Regions from separate parts of the Homo sapiens genome. Here region 1 is linked to region 2. Evidence: fine-mapped expression QTL. A gene starts in region 2. The other region holds a variant in brackets. All regions are shown on one strand. Distances are between the middles of the regions. Region 1 overlaps SLIT3 (slit guidance ligand 3). Region 2 holds the start of TENM2-AS1 (TENM2 antisense RNA 1).

The links.
Region 1: its variant is fine-mapped to the expression of TENM2-AS1 in non-classical monocytes (Schmiedel 2018, PIP 0.95).

Annotation. Positions count from the first base shown.
Region 1 is chr5:168,737,480-168,742,855 of GRCh38, forward strand. All of the region lies in intron 20 of SLIT3 (slit guidance ligand 3), which reads right to left. Among named protein-coding and RNA genes, the nearest start is that of MIR218-2, 28 kb to the right of the region's middle. The variant C/G (reference allele first, on the strand shown) is at 3,164.
Region 2 is chr5:168,229,075-168,234,450 of GRCh38, forward strand. It overlaps TENM2-AS1 (TENM2 antisense RNA 1), which reads right to left and starts at 3,298. Exons shown (of 3, transcript NR_109894.1): 1 at 3,230-3,298; 2 at 1,812-1,982; 3 at 509-786. All of the region lies in intron 27 of TENM2 (teneurin transmembrane protein 2), which reads left to right.

The sequences.
Region 1 (5,376 bases), 510 kb after region 2:
CATATGCACACTGCCAGCCTGCTTCCCACAGTGTTCTCAGACCCCGCATCCTAATACAAATCCTTTCTTCCAATAGTTGTGCCTGGAGCTATGTCATCCTTCCCCCCTCTTTTCCTTGGGATATCAAGTTATAGGACAACAAATCCATGCTCATTGTCCTTAGACCAAAAATATATGTCTAAACATCATGGATATTAACCAGGGGTAGATATGGGGGAAAGCTGTTCACCAGCACTGGATTCTGCATTTCTTCTCTAACCGTTATGAAGATGTAGGCTTTGCAGAGTTTGTTTCCAGAACCAGGAAACCTGATGTTTGTAAACATTTCCATAAATGGAAGCAAGCAGATTTTTAGGTTTCAGTTCTAAAATAGTGAGGTAAGCATGAATTTAAAAGGACAGTTGCATGGCAATAATTGTACTTTCTGAAGGCAGTGAGGCCCTACCTTCACAGAGAGTATTCTGGTGACTTTGAGGGCTGAGATGTCCTGTATTTGCTTCTGTCCTGCTTTCCATAAGATTCTGTAAGCTTGCCTTTTAAATTAGGAACTTCGTGCTGACTTAGAGCAGTTATCTCTCTCTATCCATTGCCCACCAATATGTAATGACCAGAGTGGTTCTCAAAGTGTCATCCATAGACCCCGGGGGTCCCTGAGGCTTTTTCAGGGGTCTATGAGGCCAAAACTATATTTACAATAAGGTTAAAATGTTATTTTCCTTTTGCCCTGTGTTGACATTTGCACTGATGGTACAAAATTAGTGGAGGGTAAAACTGCTGGCACCTCAGCATGAATCAGGACATCGCTACCAAATGAAACTGGTGGTCACTGTATTCTTCACCTCTGTGCACTTGCAGGTTTTACCAAAACCAGGAATGCCCTTGATGAAGTACCAAGAATTATTGTTTGTATTAACATTCAACTCTTGAGCACACATTCCTTTAATGTCCCGTATGACAAAATGGGAGATGTACACACACAGCATGTTGGTTGTCTAGAGAAAAGTACCTGTGTAATTGAGTTGCAAGCTGAACTAGCTGGCTTTTACATTTTTTCATGGAACACTGTTTTTACCTAAAAGAAAGACTGGCAAACTCATTATTCAGACATGGCTATTTAGTAGATAATTTCTTGAAAATGAACAAAGTAAGCCCATCACTTTAAAAAAAGCAACTCACAGGCTGGGCACGGTGGCTCATGCCTGTAATCCCAGCACTTTGGGAGGCCGAGGCAGGTGGATCACAAGGTCAGGAGATCGAGACCATCCTGGCTAATACGGTGAAACCCCGTCTCTACTAAAAATACAAAAAATTAGCCGGGCGCGGTGGCGGGCGCCTGTAGTCCCAGCTGCTGGGGAGGTTGAGGCAGGAGAATGGCGTGAACCCAGGAGGCGGGGCTTGCAGTGAGCCGAGATGGCGCCACTGCAGTCTGGCCTGGGTGAAAGAGCAAGACTCCATCTCAAAAAAAAAAAAAAAAAAAAGCAGCTCACAGTATTTGTTGCCAATGATAAATTCGTGCTTCCAAGTAAAAATTAAAATTTTGGAAAACTTTTCACTGCCACATTGAGCTTAACAACTTTCCCTCACTTAAAGACTTTTCTGATGAGATCAGCGGTGATATCAAAGGACATTATTTAAAAAATATATTGTATAATGAAATGTGTTAGCATTTGGAAGATCTGCATAACTCAGTGAACCGATATTTTTCCATTGACCAACACATGATATTACAAGATCGTGCATGGGGAAAGTTCCATTCAAAGCGTAAGACAGATCGGTAGAGTTATGTAACAGAGGACCAAAGGTTCACTGGTACAAGTGCAGTTCCACACTACAACTAGCCTTTAAGAAAATGCCACTTGTTGAGCTTTGGTCTTAATCAAAGAAGAACACCCATAATTACCTGAAAAGACTATTAAAGTATTCCTCGCTTTTTCTTTCTTTTTATTCTTTTTTTTTTTTTTGAGATAGAGTCTCACTCTGTCACCCAGGCTGGAGTGCAACGGCGCAATCTCAGCTCACCACAACCTCTGCCTCCCAGCTTCAAGTGATTCTCCTGCCTCACCCTCCCAGCTTCAAGTGATTCTCCTGCCTCACCCTCCCAAGTAGCTGGGATTACAGGCGCCCACAACCACGTCTGGCAAATTTTGTATTTTTAGTAGGGACGGGGTTTCTCCATTTTGGTCAGGCTGGTCTCGACCTCAGCTGATCCACCCACCTCGGCCTCCCAAAGTGCTGGGATTACAGGCGTGAGCCACCGCACCCGGCTCCTCCCTTTTCAAATACATTTCTGTGTGAAGCCAAATTTCTTATCCTTCATCCAAAAAGCATACCACAACAAAGTGAATGGTGAAGCAGATATGAAAATTGAGCTGTCTTCTAGGAAGCTAGATATTAAAAAGATTTGCAAAAATATAAAACAATGAAACTCTTCTCACCTGCATTTCTTTTGGTTTGTCTTAAAAATGTGCTTTTTATATAAACATGTCATGGGTATATAATTGTTACTTTTAAATGGAATTAATGCATATTTTAACATTTTCTCAGTGTTAGTAATATGATCAATATCAATAGCTATAACCCACATAAACACAGGTTCTTGGAGTCCTGGATGCTTCTGAAAAGCATAAAGGAGTCCTGAGACCTAAACATTTAAGAGCCTCTGGTGGAATGGGCATGAGCACAGGATTTGGGGTCAGACAAAGAGGGCAACTGGTACTGTAGCCCTACTTCAAAGAGCACTTGCAAGACTGAATGTGAGAATGAGGCTCAGTTTGGCTTGACTCACCCAGGGTAGAACTGAAAGGAGACTGTGAGAGAAGGGCCAGTGAGGGTTAATAGAGAGCTGACTGGAGAAAAAAATCACCTCCTGCTCAGATGGCATTGCTGGGGTCTTGCATGCTTGCAACAGCCTCTCACACTCTGCCCTTTAGAGAAATGCTGGGCAACTTTGTTTTTGTTTTTTCTTGGTGAATTAAACTTAATTTTGTTTTGTAAGCTGGCAGCTCTGCCTGAGATAACTAATGAGACCCAAGGGAGCTGAAAAGCTTGCATTGGAAACCCTGGATCTGGACTCAGCCAATGTCTCTGAACCAGAGGCTCCCAGCCATAATTCTCCAGGTCTGCCAGCTTTCACTTTCTTTGACACTCATTCTCCTGCTTACCC[C/G]CAACCCTCCACCCCAGGAAGACGGTTTGGGGAAAGAAGTGAGGGCTGCCTTCCTCGGTGCACTTTGGAAGCCATGCCTGGCCAAGGGAAGTGATACCATTTCCAAATCAGAAAATCAGGTCTCCTCCCAAAGTGCTGAAGTTTACTTTATAATTGCAGCCAATTATCTTTGTTATTTCAGTTTTCGTTCCATGAGCTTTGGGGAAAAGCATTCACGGGCTATCGTCATGGCATTTCTGTCCTTTGACATGTGTCACTTGGCACTCAATTGGCCCAGGAAGGAGAGTATAACTGGGTCATTCTCTGCAGCCCCGTCCCATGGCACAGCCCGGTCCAAGGGAAGGGCAGGAAGCTCACTGCACGTGGGGGCATTTTTGTACACAGAACTTCCAGGGCATGACCCCAGCTCAAACTCACGGTGGACATGAACTTTTTAGCAACTGTCAAGACCTCCCTTCCTTCCCCTGGGCTGGCAGCCCTAGTTTCAGTTTTTCTGAGCATTGGGAAATGCCTGGAGCCACAACACACACTCAAGAATCCATGTGCCTCCAGGCACGGAGGCTCATGCCTGTAATCCCAGCACTTTGGGAGGCCGAGGCGGGCGGATCACGAGGTCAGGAGATTGAGACCATCCTGGCTAACATGGTGAAACCCCGTCTCTACTAAAAAATACAAAAAATTAGCTGGGCATGGTGGCGGGCACCTGTAGTCCCAGCTACTCGGGAGGCTGAGGCAGGAAAATGGTGTGAACCCGGGAGGCAGAGCTTGCAGTAAGCCGAGATCACACCACTGCATTCCAGCACTCCAGCCTGGGCGACAGAGCAAGACTCGGTCTCAAAAAAAAAAAAAAAAAAGAAGACAAGACAGATTCAGAGAGGAATGCCTGCTACGGGTTAGTTGCTGTGCTTAACTCTGGAGGGGGAAAGAAAACAAACAGTGAATGAGACACAATTGCTGCTCTCAGGGAGCTCTTGGTCTAGAAGGGGAAATAAGTAAATAAGCAACTACAACACAAGGCGATACCTGAGAGAAGAGCCATGGGGATACAAGTGAGAGGCACCTAACCCAGTCTTAGCCACCCAAAAGGCTTTCTGAAAGGAAGGTTAATAATCAGCACTGACATTCATCAAACCGTGACTATGTGCTGCACAAAGGGCTAAGTGCTTTAGTTATGTTATCTTAGTCACCCTCTGCCTTGTGAAGGATATACCGCTGTTATCCCCATTTCACAGATCAGTAAATAGAGGTTGAATGAGATTAAGTAACTTGCCCAAAGTGATGCAATCAGTAGGTAGTAAAGTTGGAATTTAAACCCAAGACTATTTGTTTTCAGAATCACTCCTCTTAACTTGTGCTTCCAGGACTGAGACTGAGAAACCAGAGGGGGTTACCTAAGTAGGGATGGGAGTGAAGAACATTCTAGGCCGGGAGAATATAAATGCCCTGGACAGAGGCCCTGAAGTCAGGAAAGGCATATGCACTGGGGGAATCACAAGAAGCTACAGGTGTGGCTGCAATGTGGCTTCTGGGGGCAGGAGTGGGAAGAGATGCTGCTGAGTAGCCCCAAGGCACAGGCAGAACCAAGGCTGGGACTCACCTCTGGGCTCCTAGCCCAGTGCTCTTTCTACCACATTCTACCTGCTTCCCCATCGCAGGCTAGCATGTTTTTATCTGCACCCATTTCAGACTGGAGGGAGCTGGCCTATGTAAAAATGAGGCATTTTCTTCCTCACCCAGAGAGGCCTCTGATGGGAATTGAGGAGTGGGGTGAAATGGAAGATGCAGAGAGAAAGGGGACAGGTGCTGACCGCTCTGCCAAGATGCAATGTCTCCTCTGCAGTCCTGGAATCAGGTCACAGGACTCACCACGGCCTTTGAGACATACCAGCTGCACACTTTCAGGCTTCTACTCTATGTGGGTAACTCCCAGGGGACTGGCCCCAAAATCCACTCAAAAACATAGAGGAGGAGTCATGACAGTGATAACAATCATCATAGCTAATGTGACTGAGTGCTTCTGAACCACTGGCATCTGGTCTTTTAATGCTTACAGCTAGCTTATGAAGTGGTATATTAGCTTTCCTCCTGGGCAAAGAGGAAGAAAATCAGTTCAAACCACCTTAAGCATAAAGAGAATTTATCAACTCAGATAACTGAAGAAGGCACTGGAAGATACCGGGCTCTAGGGCTGGATGCAGGTACTGCAATGATAC
Region 2 (5,376 bases):
TATAATTATAATATTATAATGTAAACCCTATGTTAAATGCTTTGCTTGTATTATTTTAACTTTTTCAATAGCCCCACGAGGATAATTATTACTATCTTCATTTTTCAGATGAGAAAACAGACTCAGGGAAGCTAAATTACCTGTCCAAGGACACAATAGCTAGAAAGGGCAATGCCAGGACTCGATCCCACGTCTCTCTTTCTGTCTGACTCACTTGCCAATATGTCACATGCCTTCCTGCTTATCCGTGGTCATCCAGAGCTTCTCAGCAGAAGTGGATTCTGCTCCAGTCACTTATCTGTCACCAAGAGGGAACAGTTCCTACCATCATGCTAACCCCTTCCCTGGGGAGGGGGAATGTAATGGCATACAAAGCAAAGGCCATAACTTCCTGCACCTTACCTTCAGGTTGCGGGGAGATGGGAGAGAGGGGTAGATCATAAGTAAAAACTAATAAATAAAAATAAATAAATAACTGCAGAACAAGACAAGCACTAGGAAGTCAGTAAACAATGGAACAAAGAAAGAGTTTATCAAATGCTTTGGAATCCCTGAGAGTAGAAGGCTCAGCATCGCCAAAGCTTGGGTTGTAACTTTTTTGCTGTGTAACTGGATTGAAATCCAGCCAGCCCAGGTGACCTCCCTGCAGAGCCAGGCCCCTCCATATTAAGATTCCGCCTTTGTCTGGCTGAAGTTTAAGTCAAGTCTCCACATTAGGTTAGCAGCAGTCTCCCAGGTTTTTCTTCCTCTGCTGGTATCTGCAAAGTTGCAAACTGCAGTAGCCTCCTAAAGACAAAAATGGAATGAGATTAGTAGTTAAATCCTTAATGACTGGATTTCAGGGCTGTGTAATTGATTTTTGATATGCTGCACTGTAGAAGTTGATTATAAGTAGTAATCGTGCCTTTTCTCTGATAAATCAGTTATGCATTTTGACTAAGTTTTCCAAATAAAGATAAATGTGGCCCTAAAATAAAGTGGCTATAATCCCAACTCCAAATATTAAAACTCTTTCTTTAATAATGGTACTTGTGGTAATTAGCCCAAGTTAGGCACACAAGTCTTATAACTGAATTTCTGCCAGGGTTAGATTTGCTGGCATCGTGTTTATGCAAATCAAAACACAGTTTTATCTATCAACACCTCAACATTTAATTGTCTGGTGTTAGTTCCTGTAACAACAATCACATATCCATTTAGCTCTCTTAAATGAAAATCACTATGAGATTATAACAGGTTGAGTGGACTGAAAATGTAATTTGAAAATGAGGGAGAAAGCCTGGAATTTATTTGCATCTCATTTATTTTAATTCAGTTCGTAAACTGTTTAGTGAATGAAATGAAAGCAACTTCTGGAAATGGCAGGAGAGCAGTTGGAAGAAGGTATAAGGGAAATGTTGGGTGTGATGTGGATTGAGGGAACTGGGGAGTGGCCATTTCGTCAGATGTTTCGTGAGCCCATGGCAGGGAGTTTGCAGCCCCTAAGCCGAAGGTACCCATTGGCCCCATAAGGCTAGCAGGCTGTCTCACCATTGGCAAGATGGGCTCTTCTCTCCCTATCTATCTATCTTAGTCTTGCTGTGTCTTTTCATCCCTGCTCCACTGTCACATGAGGGCATGAAAGTTCATTTATTCAAAAGATGTTTATTAGGTGCCAACACTACAGTCAGTACCACGGAACAAGGAGACTCTAGAGAGATAAAGAAAACTGGGTGGCACCGACTAGCTAACGGTCTCATGGAGAAGACAATATTAGTAGTGTGATGTAAGCTATAATACAGGCCAAAAGCACAAAGAAAGGGATACTTAACTGTATCTGCTGGAAGAGGATAGGCCACGGCCAGGTAACAAATTAACCCTGAAATCTCATGGGCGTAACACATCGCAGTCCAAATGCATCGGGCGGCTCTTCTTAATGAGGACTTGCTCCAGTTGCTCTGTCTTGCGATCCTGCCATCTTAAGCACAGGCTCTGTGCAGTTGCTGCAGCAAGGGAAGAGAGTTTGGGTGATTCACGAGAGCTTAATAAGCAGGCCTGGATACGGCAGGCCTCACTTCCACCCACCCTGGTGAGAACACTATCAGGGAACCTCAACTGAACCACAGGGAAGCCTGGAAAATGTTGTCTTTTCTGAGTGCCTAAGAAGAAGAAGATGAACAAAGACTTGGTAAGCACGTAGCAGAGTGATCAGGTCTCCCGTTTGACAAGAGATCAGGAAGGGCTTCACAGAGGAGCTGGAATCATTTCTGTAGAGTAGTAAGAATCAGCCAGGCAGAGATAGGGAACAGAGGTGACAGGACAAAGAATGTCGCCAGTGGAAAGGCCAAGAGGCCAAAAAGGGAATGGCATTTCAGAAAACTAATTCAGTGTGGCAGTGGATGTGTTAGAGAGTAGGGTAGAAAAAGAAGATGCAGCCAGAGACTGCACATGGAAAAGAACATGGTGCCAGGCTAACATTTATCCTGAGGGCAATGGTGAGCCCTACCTGGACTTCATTAGCAGAGTGATGTGCTGGGATGTGTGGCATTAGAAAGCTCTCTCCAGCCTGGGCACAGTGGCTCATGCTTGTTTTCCCAACACTTTGGGAGGCCAAAGTGGGAGGATCATTTTCGCCTAGGGGTTCAAGACAAGACCAGCCTAGGCAATATAGCAAAACCGCAATATAGCAAAACCCTGTCTCTACAACAACAAACAACAACAACAACCAAAAAAAAAAAAAAAGTTTAAATAGCCGACCATGGCCTGGCACAGTAGCTCATGCCTATAATCCTAGCACTTTGGGAGGCCAAGGCAGGAGGATCCCTTGAGCCCAGGAGTTGGAGACCAGCCTGGGCAACATAGGGAGACCCTGTCATGGTGGCACATGCCTGTAGTCCCAGCTATTCGGGAGGCCAAGGCAGGAGGACTGCTTGAGCACAGGAGTTTGAGGCTGCAGTGAGTTCTGATCATGCCCTGTACTCCAGCCTGGGCAACAGAGCAAGACCCTGTCTCAAGAAAAGGAAAGAAAAGATCTCTCTGACTTCCTCAGGTATGGAGGAAGACAGATGAGAAGGGGACAAGATAGATGATAGGAGGAGAGGGACAGTAAGGAGGGTGCTGCATTAGTCCAAACAAGAAACTAAATCACTAGCAGCGAGGAAAGAAAGAAGGTAGGGGGAGAGATTTGAGAGATGTCTAGCACACGAGGACGAGGATTGGGCAACTAGCAGGGTTGCTGTGTCATGCTCACCTTTTGACAGGCTCTCCCCATGATCATGTAAACTGGGAAGGCTGGGTGGCCGTCCACGCTTTGTGGGCTCTGTAAAAGAGAGTGGCTGGGAGCTGAAACCCAAGCCAGAGATGTAAGATTCTGGTGGCCCCAGCCCTGCCTCTTGGAATGGAGAAGAAACTAAATGAACTTTGAAATGCAGCCACTTAACCAGCTCCATGTAATCACTGCTCCCCATGTGGAGAGCAGGGATTTGGAGAGAATGTGTGGGTATCATGCATGAAGCAAATAGCCTGAACGTCCCCGGGACTGGCAAGCTCCTGGGAGCCTGGTCAGCTGAGGGGTGTGAGGGCCCAAGGCTCTGAACATTCCTGGAGTTTAGAGAAGACCAACAATCTCAGTGAAGCCATCACAATAGAACAGTGCCCAGTGAAATTCCAACCCACCTAGGTACCCTTTCTTCCCACAATCCTCCAGACGGAGGCATCTCTTAGTGGAGGAAAGTATCAGTGGCTCTTCCTTACAGCCTGGGGAAATGTAAGATGATGGCGGATGGATAGACCGGGACCACATCCTTTCACCAAAAGCTTTGTAATGGAGTGTTAGTCCCTTCATTCCTGCCCAAACTCAGTGCAGGGAAGATTTTCATTATGCCTCCCAAGAACTCCTCAAAGAATCTCCTTTGAAAGAGTCCTCCCCCTCCTTCCCGCATTGTCCTCCATTCCTTTCTTCACTCACTCTGGCCTTGCAAAAACATGAAGCAGGCCGGGCGTGGTGTCTCACGCCTGTAATCCCAGCACTTTGGGAGGCCGAGGCGGGTGGATCACGAGGTCAGGAGATCAAGACCCTCCTGAACAAAATGGTGAAACCCCATCTCTACTAAAAATACAAAAATCAGCTGGGTGTGGTGGCGCATGCCTGTAATCCCAGCTACTCAGGAGGCTGAGGCAGGAGAATCGCTTGAACCAGGGAGTCGGAGGTTGCAGGGAGCCAAGATCGTGCCACTGCACTCCAGTCTGGCAGCAGAGTGAGACTCCCATCTCAAAAAAAAAAGAAGCAGTTACATCATGGCATCTGTGAGCTCCATAAGTGCAGGGACCAGGTCGCCCCTGTATCCCTGGTGACAAGTGCCATGTGGTGGGTACTCAGACAACAGGTGACAAAGAAAGATGTAATAACTGTGCCTTCTATAGGCGCCTTCTTAATGTGTAAATGCTCCCCCACCACAGTGGGTATAAATTCACAAATACATTGCCCCTACATCTGTCTGGAATCCTTCCACTGCAAGAGACAGGAAGTGCATTCAGACTAACTTAGAAGAGTAGGCGCTGTCTTACCTAACAGGGCCACCACAAGGGAGAAGCTGGCCTCAGAGACTCTAAGATGTCATTAAATGGTGTACTAGTCTGTTTTCACGCTGCTGATAAAGACATACCCAAGACTGGGAAGAAAAAGAAGTTTAATTGGACTTACTTACAGTTCCACATGGCTGGGGAGGCCTCAGAATCATGGCGGGAGGCAAAAGGCACTTCTTACTTGACGGCATCAAGAGAAAATGAGGAAGAAGCAAAAGCGGAAACTCCTGATAAACCCATCAGATCTCGTGATACTTATTCACTATCACTAGAATAGCACGGGAAAGATCGGCCCCCAGGATTCAATTACCTCCCCCTGGGTCCCTCCCAACACATGGGAATTCTAGGAGATACAATTCAAATCAAGATTTGGGTGGGGACACAGCCAAACCATATCAGATGGACGTCTCTCTTTCTGTTTCTCACAGCCCCCTTCCATCCCATGGCAGGGTTTCTCTCTCGGCAGTTGACCTAATTTTCTCCTACAGTAGACTAATGTCCTCTTCACATTGCGGGGGTGGGGGGTGGTCAGGCAGACTTAGCCAAAGTTGACTCCAGGCTTACATCATCACAGCTAAGTGAACCCAGAGGAAAAAGGAAGGTATCTCCCCCAGCATTTCTATTTTTCATAAAATATCTCATGGAAGAAAGATTGACCTGGCAGAGGGAGTTCACATTCCTGGGCAAATCACTGGTCAGGGAGCTGGGGATCTGTGATGAGTCAGGCAGGCACAGGTCACATGACCATACCTGTATCTTATAATAGACATCTCAGTAAAAGCACCTAGACAGGGAAGCCCTAGAAAAAAGAGG